Regions from separate parts of the Homo sapiens genome. Here region 1 is linked to region 2. The links come from fine-mapping of genetic effects on gene expression. A gene starts in region 2. The other region holds a variant in brackets. All regions are shown on one strand. Distances are between the middles of the regions.

Region 1 (2,906 bases), 32 kb before region 2:
AGCAATTGTCAGGAATTTCTTTCTGTTCCTTGAATTATGTTTTCTTTGTATTTTACTATTTTCATTTCTAACTTTCTGTTATGGACTAAATTGTATCCCCTCCCTGCCCCCAAATTTACATGGTGAAGCCCTAACTTCCAGGACCACAGAACATGTATTAGGACACAGGGTCTTTCAAGAAGTCAGTAAGTTAAAATGAGGTCATTAGGGTGGGCCTCTATCCAATATGAATGGTATCCTTACACAAAGAGGACATATGGATACAGACAGGTACAGAGGGAAGACCACGTGAAGACACAGGCCATCTACAGCCAAGGAGAGAAGTTTCAGAAAAACCAATGCTGCTGAGACCTTGACCTTGAATTTCTAGCCTCCAGAACTGTGAGAATATACATTTCTGTTATTTAAGGCATCCAGACTGTGGTATGTTACTAAGACAGTCTTAGCAAACTAATACACCCTCACTCCTTTTTTTTTTTTTTTTTTTTTTGAGACGGAGTTTCGCTCTGTCACCCAGGCTGGAGTACAGTGGTGCCATCTTGGCTCACTGCAAGCTCTGCCTCCCGGGTTGACGCCATTCTCCTGCCTCAGCCTCCCGAGTAGCTGGGACTACATGCGCCTGCCACCACGCCTGGCTAATTTTTTGTGTTTTTAGTAGAAACGGGGTTTCACTATGTTAGCTAGGATGGTCTCGATCTCCTGACCTCATGATCCGCCCGCCTCGGCCTCCCAAAGTGCTGGGATTACAGGCGTGAGCCACCGTGCCTGGCCTCACTCCTTTTCTTAATTTAATTTCAAACTATTCTTATTTTGCTGCAGTATTTTGGCACAGTGGCCATGCAGTTTGTTTTCATCTTGCTCATGCTTGAGCGTGGCAGTCGAGATACTCCATTTCCTATGATGCCGTTTGGGTGAATTATGGTCTTTCTTTCCATTGCATCTGAGATCAGTTAATGTTTCCCTTTGGGTTAGATATTTGGATTCTATTCTCTTTTTTGTAGCATGGAAACTAGCTGCAGCCTGGAGCGATCGTCTGCTTTGGGGTTTCTTCCCCAGTTCACCTCCGTCTGTCCCTCCCTTTACTCTTCCCAGTCTTCCTGGGAGCCATTTTCACTACCCTAGGTTGGAAAACGAAGAAAATAAAGCAACCCACTCTTTTTTTTTTCCTCCAGGTTTAGTAATGGAGGAGTTCACAGAATTTTTTTCCCTCTCATCACAGGCTTCTTAGGGTGAATGTGTGTGTGGTTAGGAGGGGAGGCAGGTGAGGAGCCCAGCTCCACTGCCCCCTCTGCTCTCCACCTGGAAAGTGGGCAGGACTGTGAGTAAATTACACATCCAAGCGTTTATTTACTGGCCATTCCAATGAAACCTTTGCTTTTTGTGGTTACCAGAATGCTAATTCAAATTAATTCTAAAAATAATCAGTACTGGGGTCGGGGGAATAGATAGCAGGAGTCCAAGCAGTGGCCATCATCCAAAAGAACTCACTGAAGAAGGTAGGGAGGAAAATTAAATTTAAGTGGTCATATCCCTCTATACTTGATTTTAAATTCTGCTTCTTGTTTCATCTGCTAGGGGAGAAATTTCCACATGCTAGAAGGTAAATCTTACATTAATCATTCTGCAGAAGAGTGAGTGGC[T/C]GGTGAATAAACACCTTGTCCTCTGCCCTACAGAACTTTCGAGTGCCCTTAACACTGGACACAGGGGAGCCTGGAGCAGGTGCCAGTTTGAAGGAGGAGGTGGAAGGAGATCACAGCTCTCCAAAGCCAAGCTCTTGCTGTTAAGCCCGAGTCTCTTTGGGGAACTCCCGGGTCCTCATATCAGATTGTCATCAACATCTGTTTTAAGAGGGAAACAGACATTTTCTGACACTCTGGATGTCTTCAGGGGCTCTTAGTGCTCTTTTGAAGCTGCGGTGTGCCCTCCCCACAGCCCCAATTCTAAGAAAACAAGGAGAGCAAAAATGCCTCCTGGGAGAGTCAGTACATTTCCTAAGTAGGCAGTAGTTTTAGAGTTGTTGCCAAATTTCATAAATGTCATGTTAAAAATAATGAATGGCACCTCTGGAAAATTTGGAAAAACAAGAAAACTTCCAGTCAGTAGAATCAATTAAGAACATACCTCTCCTTTTTCTCTGAATGAAAAACCCCCATCAATGTAATAGGAAACCATGAATAACATCCTAAGCCATATTTTAATAGAATTTTTCCCTCAGATATCAACCGTCCCCCATCAGGAATGTACTGCTTTTGGTGAATGTTTGCGTAAAAGGGAAGTGAGTGATCCTCCAGGCAGGTCTACCTCTTCCTGCTTGCCATTCCATATTGTCTCCCTGCTCTGTCTCCCTCCTGTCCTGCAATGGTCCAAATGGACACATTTACAAGAATAAAATAACATCAAAGAAAAGCCGACAAACCCGGAAAAAAGTAGCTAAGAAGGCAGACAACACATGAAATTGAAGCAACTGAAGGGCTAACATTTATTGAGCCCCTCCTTTTTTGCCATGATCTTTGATATGTGCTTTAAATTAAAAAAGTGAAATAGGCAGTTTCCTAATTTTTTAAACTGATAATACATTACAATAGAGTAGGATATGTTTTTTTAAAATAATAGCATATTAAGATCATCTATAATTTAAGTAAACAAAATTTGGGTAAAATCCAGGAGTTTAAAATCATTTTGTAATCAACTTTGAAATGCATTGGTTTTTTTAAAGTAATGTTTTTAAAAACTGAAAATCAGGACTCTTGAAAATGTATAAGAAAAATCAGTCAATTTGTAAACGTCTTCCCCACAATTCTCCCTCCGGGTTTTCGCTTTCTCCCTTCTCACAAGCACCCCACTCATGTCTCTGCCTATTGCCCCTAATTCCGGAAGCCAGCACTGGTATATTCAGGTATGGCAGA
Region 2 (2,906 bases):
TTACAGGCGCCCACAACCATGCCCGGCTAATTTCTGTATTTTTAGTAGAGGCGGGGTTTCACCGGTGGCCAGGCTAGTCTCGAACTCCTGACCTCAAGTGATCCGCCGGCCTCAGCCTCCCAAAGTGCTGGGATTGCAGGTGTGAGCCACCACGCCTGGCCTGTCAATACCATTGTGTTTCTGAGCCTATCCATCCATTCAAGGAGCGCTCACATACAGGTCACTGTGGGTTACCGCTAGGCTGAGATTGTTTTGCTTTTTTAATAGCTTGCCCTGTGGAGCGTGATGATGACTTCCTCTTCTGTCCCCTAAAAGAACCTGAAACTGTAAGTGTGAAAGTGTGGCGCAGGGGAGAACTGCCTAGGCAAGGGCAGCTGGCACGACCCTTCTCACCTCTTCCCTAACATTCCTAGCATTCATGTTACAAGCAAGGGCCACCGCGCCCCCTGCTTGAGCATGTTAGCCGGGCGGTAGGGACGGAGACAGTTCTCTCATGACGTTCGAGTAACCAGGAAACTTCATCACAGGGACAACACCACAGCACCCGAGGACTCAATGTCTAGGGGGAAAAGCTCTGGAGAAAGCGGAGGGTCGGATCATAAAATAATCATAAACTCAGCGTCCCAGACGGCATCTGGGATGGGAAGTACAATGATCATTTAAAAAAAAAAAAGTCTTTGACACTCTTCCTACACCTTTCTGAAATGGCACAATCTGTCAGACCACATCTGATGCAAGGAAAAGCAAGACAGGAGCGCTTTTCCCGGATAACAAAGCCAAGACTCCCATTCCTAAACCCTAGCTCAGGTCTCCATCTCTTAAATCCGAGTGACCTCTACAAACTCTCCCTGAGAAGGTGTCCAGAACCCTTTTGGAAGCGAGGGACAGTGTCACTGTCTTTGGGGTTGACACCTGCTCTGAGTAACTCACGGAAAACAAGTTCCAGCTGGGAAGCCCTTGGACGCGCCACACCTCCCTACCCGCAGCCCGTCCTGTGGCGCCCGGGACTCCAGAGTGCGTTTAGATGAAAGGGGACCGACACGTCAGGGCCACCGCGGGAAGCGCTGAGGGCCACTCACCGGCCAGGGACGCGAAGAGCGCGGCCGCCGCGCTGAGCTGCCGGGGCATGGTGGGCGCTGGGCGAGGTTCTGCAGCGTGCGGCGAAGTCCGGGCAGGCCCCGAATCGGTGCCAGAGAAACCTACCTGTGCCGGAGAAACGAAACCACCTGCTTATGAGAAGCAGCCGAAAAGCCCGCCCAGGGCCGCTGGGCGGGGAGGGAAACTCCGCCGGCCCCCTCCTACCCCTACGGAGCAGGGAGGGGCGGGGACTCGGCGCAGCCGCCGGGGCCCGGGCCTCTGGGACCGTTTACCGCACGCGCGTGGTCCCGGCAGCGCCGGCCTCCTCCGCTCATACCCTGGGTCTCCTCCTTTCTTTTTCTTTTCTTTTTGAGACGAAGTCTCGCTCTGTCGCCCAGGGTGGAGTGCAGTGGCGCGATCTCGGCTCACTACAACCTCTGCCTCCCGGGTTCAAGCGATTCTTCTGCCTCAGCCTCCCGAGTAGCTGGGATTACAGGCATGCACCACCACACCCGGCTAATTTTTGTATTTTTAGTAGAGACGGGGTGTCACCATATTGGCCAGGCTGGTCTCGAGCTCCTGACCTCGTGATTCGCCCGCCTCGACCTCCCAAAGTGCTGGGATTATAGACGTGAGCCACCGAGCCCGGCCAGGGTCTCCTCTTTTATTTCTTTTCTTTTTATTTCTTTTGTTTTGTTTTGTTTTGTTTTGTTTTTTGAGACAAAGTCTCGCTCTGTCGCCAGGCTGGAGTGCAGTGGCGGGATCTCGGCTCACTGCCCTGGTTCAAGCGATTCTCCTGCCGCAGCCTCCCGAGTAGCTGGGGTTACAGGCGCCCGCCACCACGCCCAGCTAATTTTTGTATTTTAGTAGAGACGGGGTTTCACCCTGTTGGCCAGGCTGGTCTCGATCTCCTGACCTTGTGATCCGCCCGCCTCGGCCTCCCAAAGTGTTGGGATTACAGGCGTGAGCCACTGCGCCCGGCCCAGGGTCTCCTCTTTTCTAACAGCTCGGGTACCTTTCTGGGAACCCAGAGACGCTTCTCAGCCGGGAGAAAGCCAGCCACTAGGCGAGCAGGAGCCTAAAAACCCCTAAGCACCCTGACTCCATGTCTTCCCAGGGAGTCTGCGGCAGCCGCGCTCCACGCCCAGGCCTCGCCAGGACCGCGGTTTGCGGGAAGCAACAGGAGCACAGCCCAGAGGCGCTAGGTCTGGCTGGGAGCTCGCGCTGCCGACTCCCCGGCGTGCGGCGTCGGGGAACCTCTAGGAGCCTTGGATTCTTCAGCTGTAAAACGGACATAATAATGCCCACTCCCAGTGTGTTTTTTTATTTTCTTTTTTCTTTTTCTTTCTTTGTTTTTGTTTGTTTGTTTTTGTTTTTGTTTTTGAGACAGGGTCTCACTCTGTCGCCCAGGCTGGAGGGCAATGGCGTGATCTCGGCTCACTGCAAACTTGGGTTCAGGCGATTCTCCTGCCTCAGCCTCCACAGTAGCTGGGATTACAGATGTGCGCCACCACGTCCGGCTAATTTTTTGTATTTTTAGTAGAGACCAGGTTTCACCGTGTTGGCCAAGCTGGTCTCAAACTCCTGACCCCAGGTGATCCGCCCGCCTCGGCCTTCCAAAGATCTGGGATTACAAGCGTGAGCCACTGTGCCTGGCCCCAGGTGGTTTTACAGACCAGAAAATCCTGGAACAAAAAACACACAATATCGTTTTTTTTTTTTTTTTGGAGTCAGGGTCTCGCTCTATCACCCAGGCTGGAGTGCAGTGGCGTGATCTCGGCTCACTGCAACTTCGACCTCCTGGCCTCAAGTGAGTCTCCCACCTTAGC

What was found. PIP is the estimated chance that this variant, and not a neighbour inherited with it, causes the effect. A credible set is the group of variants that fine-mapping cannot tell apart.
Region 1: its variant is the best candidate, but not a certain one, in a credible set for the expression of LAMP3 in lung (TOPMed, PIP 0.86).

What each region holds. Positions count from the first base shown.
Region 1 is chr3:183,129,687-183,132,592 of GRCh38, forward strand. The region is part of intron 5 of LAMP3 (lysosomal associated membrane protein 3); the gene reads right to left. Among named protein-coding and RNA genes, the nearest start is that of LAMP3, 32 kb to the right of the region's middle. The variant T/C (reference allele first, on the strand shown) is at 1,641.
Region 2 is chr3:183,161,528-183,164,433 of GRCh38, forward strand. It overlaps LAMP3 (lysosomal associated membrane protein 3), which reads right to left and starts at 1,207. Exons shown (of 6, transcript NM_014398.4): 1 at 1,080-1,207. The coding sequence starts at 1,128. RefSeq lists an enhancer at 386-595 and a silencer at 1,208-1,417.